2 separate regions of the Homo sapiens genome follow, and region 1 is linked to region 2. Evidence: fine-mapped expression QTL. Tissue or cell type: nasal epithelium. Region 2 holds a variant in brackets; the other region holds the start of a gene. All regions are shown on one strand. Distances are between the middles of the regions.

Region 1 (4,163 bases), 52 kb before region 2:
CTAGAGTGCAATGGTGAGATCTCGGCTCACCGCAACCTCCGCCTCCCGGGTTCAAGCGATTCTCCTGCCTCAGCCTCCTAAGTAGCTGGGATTACAGGCATGTGCCACCACACCCGGCCAATTTTGTATTTTTAGTAGAGATGGGGTTTCCCCATGTTGGCTAGGCTGTTGTCGAACTCCTGACCTCAGGTGATCCACCTACCTTGGCCTCCCAAAGTGCTGGGATTACAGGCGTGAGCCACTGTGCCCGGCCAACACATTTTTATAAATGAATGAATGTTAAATGAATGTTTAGAATTATTAGAATTCTATTGGGTAGATGAGGCCCATAGAAAACTCTTGAGACCAATGTAGCAGGATTCTCAGTGAAAGACTAAGTTTGTGTGCAGGGATGTTTTCCTTCTCTAGCAAAGAGAGGTGCTGGAAAGGCTTTCATGGTCCATAAGAAGGGAATTGTTTTGGAGGGCAGTGCTATAGCAACTCTTCCCCTCCATTCACCACATAAAAAATTCAGTTAGAAAATAGAGAGGAATCAGCCTTCTTGTGCTTTGAAGACTGTGAAAGATACTGGTGATCATCCATCTAGCATCCATTTTCCTCTTCTCCTTTACAGGTCTCCAGTTTTATTCAAATAGCCATGTCTCCACCTTGCAACTCATGTGACTCAAAGAGCACTGACACCATTGCCAATTCCAATTGTCATAGCTCCTTTTCACTTCTGGAACCCAGGCTTAAGCTGTCTGTACATTTCCCAGGCAGTTACTGGTAAAGAGGAAGAGTGTGTGCCTGTGTGAACTTATTGGCTCAAAAAACCAGAAGGAAAGGTTTTAGATGAAAAAGAAAGTATGTGGTCCTGATTTCTCCAAGTAGACATCTGGAAAATCACGTTAGTATGAATTTGAAGTCTACCCTTTTTTTTTTTTACAACAAAGCAGAGACTAATAGCAACTGGGTCCTTGTTAACTTGCTTAGCCACTGAATTAATCAAAGTCTCCCTTGCCTCTGAGCTTTCTGTTATGCGAGATAAGCAACTTCTTTATTTTTTAGGAAGACAGTTTAACTCAGATTCTATATCACGTGCATCCAAAATAATAATAACTGACTCAAAGATGTTTGGCCTCTACAATTAGGGCAGCCATTCTCAGAAGAGTATGCAAGGGCACCCTATTATCTTGGAAAAGGGAAGCACTGAGACTATTTGCATTTTGAGAACTGAAAATGCAATCTGCTAACCGTCGTTAGAGTGAATATCCAGGTATGGAAAGCACAGTGGGTAGGCGTAGGTTGGGGTAGGGACATGTTTGCATGGGGCAAACACAGAGATCAAACCTAAGTGTAGTCCCAGCTGCCTGGAAGAAGGCTAAGAAGGGTCTGAAAGTATTGAGCTCCAAGAGCCCTTGGATCTCCTGATGAGAGACCCTTGGCTGATGCCCTAGATGGGACATCCCTGTTGGCTACTGTGGGACCTGCATCATTTGACTGCAACACAGTCTGTTGCAACATTTGACTGTAACACAGACCTACATCATTTGACTGATTTGAAAAGACAAGTTGTCAACAGCGACACCATGTGGCTATAAGATACAATGACAATGGTGGACAGCTACAGCCTCAGGTAGGGCCTGACGCTTCGTCGAGATGTGGAAAATGCTGAATGGGAAGATGAACTGTCGTCAACAAATATTTATTGGGGTCCTCCAAATGTCAGCTGCTACAGTGGTCATTCAGGTCTGGAACATCGAGAACATGCTGACCCGTACCCCAGCAAGGGCTCGTAGTCGCGGCGGGGTAGGGGGCGAGAGAGAGGGCAGTCTCTGGTGGCCAGGTAACCCAGGCTTCACTTTCACCCACGGCCACAAGTATTTCTGACGTCTTCCGGGCAAATAAGCCTCCATGTAAGTGACAGGGCACCCAAGGAGTGCGTTGGAAGCGCCAGCGTGCCCGAGACCAGCACATCGCACCGACGCCTTCGTTTGCGGTAAGCCCCGCCCCCCGTAGTGAGCCAACCGGAGGGAGCGGGGCGGACCCAGCTTCCCGGAGAGGCTGGAGAGAATCGTTTGGGGGCATTCGCAGGCCAAAGAGGGGCTGGCCCTCGACGCGCTCGGGCTCGATTGGCCGCCCTCCCCCGGCGGTGGTAACGGTCGCGGAGGCGGGGCCTGACGTAGCTGATCCCAGCCTAACCTGGCCCGGCTGGCTGCTGGTGGGAGGCCGGCGACTGAGTAAGGTGAGTGGCTCTCGGGGCTCTCAGAGGCGTCGGCGTGAGCCCCTTCCCGGAGTACCCCGGACTTGACCTCACCTGGGCCTAAAAGTGGTCAGACTGACCCTTGTCGGGGAGGAGCCATCTGGGACAGGGTCGCGCCAATTAAAAATCCCTGCGTAAGGGTTTGGGGATCGGACAAAACTGCCTCCAGTCCCAGCTCCCCAGGCTTTGTGTTCTTTGGCTTCTCCTTTAATGTCTCAGCGCCTCCGATTCTTTATTTGTATACTAAAGCTGGTAATTCTTGCCTTACAAGGTGGTTGTGAGGGTTAAATGAGGCAGTAAGAGTAAAGCTTAGAATCACGTCGGGCACAGACTCGATTTAAGCTGTAGGTAATTACTCCATCCCCCAAAATCGACCCGGGCTGAAGCGCTAGTTTTGTGTCAAACAACCGCGAAGGTTGTTTGGGGAGTGAGGACTCGGAGCAGAAGGGGGCGGTTAGGCGAATAGCACAGGTGAGTATCTCTTTCTCCAGTTTATTAACCTCATTCCGGATTCAGGAGACCTCTGACTTTATACAGGGCCTAATAGGAGTTTTTCAAGGTGAAAAATGCCAGAAGGCTAAGTCACCTGTAACAGAGAGACCAATCAGAGTTTCCTTTTTTACTGCCACTTTGTTTTTCAATCAATGATATTAAACAGGCAGGGCGCAGTGGCTTACGCCTGTAATCTCAGCACTTTGGGAGGCCGAGGTGGGCGGATCCCCTGAGGTCAGGAGTTCGAGACCACCCTGGCCAACATGATGAAACCACGTCTCTACTAAAAATACAAAAATTAGCTGGGCATGGTGGTGTGCGCCTGTAATCCCAGCTACTCGGGCGGGTGAGGCAGCAGAATCGCTTGAACTCGGGAGGCGGAGGTTGCTGTGAGCCGAGATCGCGCCACTGCACTCCAGCCTGGGTGACGGAGCGAGACTCTGTCTCAAAAATATATGTATAATATATTAAACTCTGTGCAGGCATTACCCATATTGGTTTCAAGCCTCTGCATGAGTTTTGTACTTTAAATATTGCCAAGTAGACTCTGGCCTCCCCTGCCCCGCCTTTTGGGGAAGAGGTGGCTGACTTGGAGTTTTCCCTACAGCTTTTGCTTCAAAGCAAGGTTCTGCCCCTTCATGTCACCTCTCCTGAGACAGAATGATTTGGTTGAGATGACATTCCATTTTAACTCTTTCCTATTTGGGGTAAGTTCAGCTCTTTCTTAGGAACATTAAACAGCAAGTTGCAATATTTTTAGAATAGAGCTTTTGCATTTAATAAGGAATAGAGACTTCGAAAGGGTTACATGTTCATTTATTGCAGTAATTTGAAGTATATACTTTTGAAGATGCTTACAGATTTTGGTGTGATTCAGTTGAGAAGGAACAGTTATTGGCCATGGTTTATTGTCAGCTCCCCTCCCCCACCCCAAATGGTGAAAAAAATAATTAAATTTTAAGATATGGAGCATGTTACAAGGGGCTTCAGACCTATAAAGGGCAATTTGGCTGAAAGACTCGGGAAACCTAGAAAGTGCCAGAAGATGCAATTATGTTTTTGCTTTTCTATGCTTGGCTTACTATGCCATGTACAAATCAACTCCTACCCTCCGACTCCTACCCCCCGACTCCTACCCCCAACAATCTTATTTTAAGTGTGTTATGACAGTAATTAAAGCTGTAGCTTCTGTTTTGGCCCTAGAAAGCATTTGGTCTCTTCCTGTGACTTTAAAGTTCCAGACCTTTGTCCTGTCACAGCCTGTAGTGGGGAAAAGGCTGCTGCAAACTATTGGCCCGTTTATTTCACAGAATGGTCCTCTGAAAAGGAGGGCTTGGTCACAGGTGCAAATGAGGAGTAGTTTTGTTCCTGTGTTTGCTTTTGTGATCAGTGGTAGTTTGTCTGAGGATGCTTCATTTTAGTATCCTTG
Region 2 (4,163 bases):
GAGAATGTGCAATAGTTGTCTTTCAGGGCCTGGCTTATTTCATTTAACGTAATGACCTCCATTTTCATCCATGTAGCTGCATGTGACAGGATTTCATTCCTTTTTATGGCTGAATAATATTCCATTTGTGTACACATACCACATTTTCTTTTTCCAGTCATCCATTGATGGACACCTAGGTTGAATTCATATTTTGGCTGTTGTGAATAGTGCTGCAATAAACAAGAGAGTACAGATACCTCTTCAATATGTTTATATATATAATATGTGTGTATATATATACACACACACACACATACATACATACATACATACATACATACACACTCTGTAGTGGGTTTGCTGGATCATATGGTTTAGTTTTTTGAGGAACCTCCATACTGTTTTCCATAGTAGTTGTACTAGTTTTCATTCCCACCTATAGTGTACCAGGATTCCTCTTTCTCTATATCCTCACCAGTACTTTTTTTTTTTTTGTCTTTTGAGTAATAGCCATTCTAACTGGAGTGAGATGATATCTCATTGTGTTTTCTTCCTTTTTTACTGTCTTCCTTTGTGGTCAAGTGATTTTCTTCTTTTTTGGTTGTTTTAATTTTTTGCTTTTTTTTTAGTGTACCTGTTTTATTTTTGCTTTGTAGTTACCATGAGATTTACAAAAAAACATTTTATAGATATAACAAGTTATTTTTTAAGTTAAGGAGTTTTTAAAAGAGATGGGGATTTTACTGTGTCGGCCAGGTTGGTCTTGAACTCCTGGCCTCAAGCAATTCTCCTGCTTTAGCCTCCGAAAGTGTGGAGATTACAGGCATGAGCCTGTGCCTGGACAACAGGTTACTTTAAATAGATATCTTGCCTTGATCACAAATAATAGAAACAAACAAAGGAAAAACTAAAACATTCTACACTTTTACTCCATCATATTATGACTTTTTGTTGTCTCAGTTTACATCTTTTTACATTATCTATACCTTAACAAGTTGCTGTAGTTATTTTGAGGGGGAGCTTTTTGTTTTTGTTTTTTCTTTTTTTTGAGATAGGGTCTCACTCTGTCACCCAGGTTGGATTGCAGTGGTGCAATCTCAGTTCACTGCAACCTCCACTTCCCAGGCTCAAGCTATCCTCCTGATAGAGGTGGCAACAAATCTGAAGCAGCTGCTGTAAGGAAGCCAGCAGTGGAGGAGGTGCAGGCAGGGCTGCGTGCTCCATGGAGCTGTCAGGGGCTAGGAACAGGTGATCCCAGTGGGGACCCTGTGCTCCCAGGCACAGCTGCATCTGCCCAGCCACAGCTTGGGACTTGGGCATCCCTGCGCTCTTATGGGCCTGGAAAGCCCCCTGCCCCCTCAGGCTTGGAAGTACTTGCTCCCACTGCCTGGCCTCTCTTCACTCCCAGTACCCACTCTGGTGTAGAGTGAAGTTGTGGCTGAGCACGGGTGCTGTCATGACCCAGTCAGGTGTGTGTACACTCGGGGCAGTGCTGACATGCCAGCCCCCTACTGCCTTGGTTCCCCCAAGACTTTGGATGCCGACGAGCGCAGAAGGGAGGCTGGGAGGTTGAGGGCAGCTTGGCATGGGCCTGTGAGTGTCCTGCAGTGCAGACAGCCTGGGCACTGCAGATGGCATGTTGATGGTGGTGAGAGGTAGACAGGTTCCTAGGCAGAAGGGGCAGGTCCTCAGTGAAACCTCACCTTCAAGCCAAGGACAGCCTGAAGCCTGGAGGCCAGGCTGCCAGTGCCAGGTGGAGTCCGCAACCTGGAGTGAGAACTTCCTTCATGCCTTTTGGCCAATTGGATGATGCTTTTTCCAGGCCTTCCCATGGCTGTCCATGGACCAGTCAGCACATACTTCCTCCCTTCTGAGCCCGTAAAAACCCAAGGCTCAGCTAGACTCAGGGACTCATCAACTCATTGGGACTACCTGACTGTGGATAGGAGCTGCCCACTTAGGGTCTCCTCTCTACTGAGAGTTGTTCTGTCACTCAATAAGGCTTCTCCCCACCTTGCTCACCTTCCAGTTGTCTGTGTAACCTCATTCTTCCTGGACACAGGACAAGAACTTGGGACTCACTGAATGGCGGGAGTGAAAGGAGCTGTAACACGTTCCTGGCCGACTCGCCGGGCTGTGCGTGGTGACAAAGACAAACTG[C/T]GTGAGTGAAGAGTGGTGACCTTTCTAGGGGCCCAGACCTCAGGATTTCTGAGCCAGAGGTGCTGTCACATCATAGGCCTCCCACCCTCCACTGGCACCTGGTGGCTGCGCCATGCAATGGGAAGCAGCTGTGGGGCCAGGCCAGCCCAGGAGCCACTGGCCAGAGCAGGGTGGTGGGACTGAAACAGCTGTAACACAAATGGGCTGAAACATGTGCCACCTGAAACACATCCCCCGACTTGCTGCGCTGCGGGTGACAAGGAGAGAAGAGTTGTGACTCTTCTGGGATCCCAAACCTCAGGGCTCCCAGAGCCAGGGCTCTGACACACTCTAACACCCTCTTTGGGCCTCTGTGGTTCCTGGCATCTCTGAGCTTTCAGGCGCCCCTGCATTCCCCTTGTCCAGGCATTGGTGCCCACAGCGGAAGCTGCTTGCAGTACATCTGGTCCAGCCACAGTCTCACATGGAGCCAGTGCCTGTGCTGGTGGCTGGAGCTGCCTGCCTCACTGCAACAGCCAGTGTGCCTGGCTGTGCACATAGCCAGACCCCACATTTGCTAACTCACACACCCCTCACTGCTCTGCACCTGGCTTGCCCTTAGCAGGCATGGGGTCTGGGCTGGTAGCACAAGCTGAGTGCAGCCTGCCAGGCCGAGTGGGCAGAATAAGCCCAGCAGGTGTGAGCAAAACTCAAGCAGAGGTACCACTGGCCACAGAGGTTTCTGGCTGGTGAAGCGACACACTGAGGATCTTGTGATGCTCCCACCTCAGCCTCTCAAGTAGCTGGGATCATAGGTGCATGCTACGACACTCAGCTAACTTTTTGTATTTTTGGTAGAGATGGGGCTTTGCCATATTGCCCTGGCTGGTCTCAAATTCCTGAGCTCAAGCAATCTGCCTGCCTCTGCCTCCCAAAGTGCTGGGATTATAGGCATGAGCCACTGTGCCTAGCCTACTGTTTTAAGTAGATTTGTCTTTTAGTATTCATACTAGAGATATGACTGGATTACACACCACAATTATATTATTAGAGTATTCTGCGTTTGTCTGTATATTCACTTTTACCAATGGGTTTTATACCTTCAAATGTTTTTTTGTTTTTGCATGTGGTGTCCTTCTCTTTCATAGTGAAGAACTCCCTTTAGCATTTCTTATGAGTCCCTTTCAAGTGTTTGCTTGTCCTGGTAAAGGCTTTATCTCCTTTGTATTTCAAAGATAGCTTTGCTGAGAATAATATTCTTGGTTGACAGGTTTTTTTTTTTCTTTTTCTTTTTCTTTTTCTTTTTCTTTCAGCACCACGTTGAATATGTTATTTCACTCCCTCCTGGCCAATATGCTTTCTGCTGAGGATTCTATTGCCAGATAAATCAGAGCTCCTTTATATTTTGTTTTCTTCTTTTCTCTTGATGCTTTTAGGATCTTCTCTTTGTGCTTGACTTTGAGAATGTACTTATTTATTAAACTTTTAGATTTGGGTAAATGTGAAGGTTTGTTACGTAGGTAAACTTGTTTCATTGGGGTTTGTTATACAGATTATTTCATCACCCAGGCATTAAGCCCAGTACCCAATAGTTATCTTTTCTCCTTCTCTTCCTTCTCCCACCCTCCACCCCAGTGTCTGTTGTTACCTTCTTTGTGTTCATAAGTTCTCATCATTTAGCTCCCACTTATAAGTGAGAACAAGTAGTATTTGGTTTTCTGTTCTGCATTAGTTTGCTAAGGATAATGCCGTTCAGCTCCATCCATGTTCTCGCAAAAGACATGATCTTGTTCTTTTTTATGGCTATGTAGTATTCTATGGTGTATATGTACCACATTTTCTTTATCCAGTCTACCATTGATGAGTATTTCAGTTGATTCCATGTTTTTGCTGTTGTGAATAGTGCTGCAGTGAACATTCATGCATGTTTCTTTATGGTAGAATGATTTGTATTCCTCTGGGTATATACCCAATAATGAGATTGCTGGGTCAAATGGTAGTTCTGCTTTTAGCTCTTTGAGGAATTGCCATACTGCTTTCCA

What was found. PIP is the estimated chance that this variant, and not a neighbour inherited with it, causes the effect.
Region 1: CEP70 starts here. The variant in region 2 is fine-mapped to the expression of CEP70 in nasal epithelium (TOPMed, PIP 0.94).

Annotation. Positions count from the first base shown.
Region 1 is chr3:138,592,259-138,596,421 of GRCh38, reverse strand. It overlaps CEP70 (centrosomal protein 70), which reads left to right and starts at 2,162. Exons shown (of 18, transcript NM_024491.4): 1 at 2,162-2,224. RefSeq lists an enhancer at 1,898-1,957.
Region 2 is chr3:138,540,671-138,544,833 of GRCh38, reverse strand. The region is part of intron 6 of CEP70 (centrosomal protein 70); the gene reads left to right. Among named protein-coding and RNA genes, the nearest start is that of CEP70, 52 kb to the left of the region's middle. The variant C/T (reference allele first, on the strand shown) is at 2,143.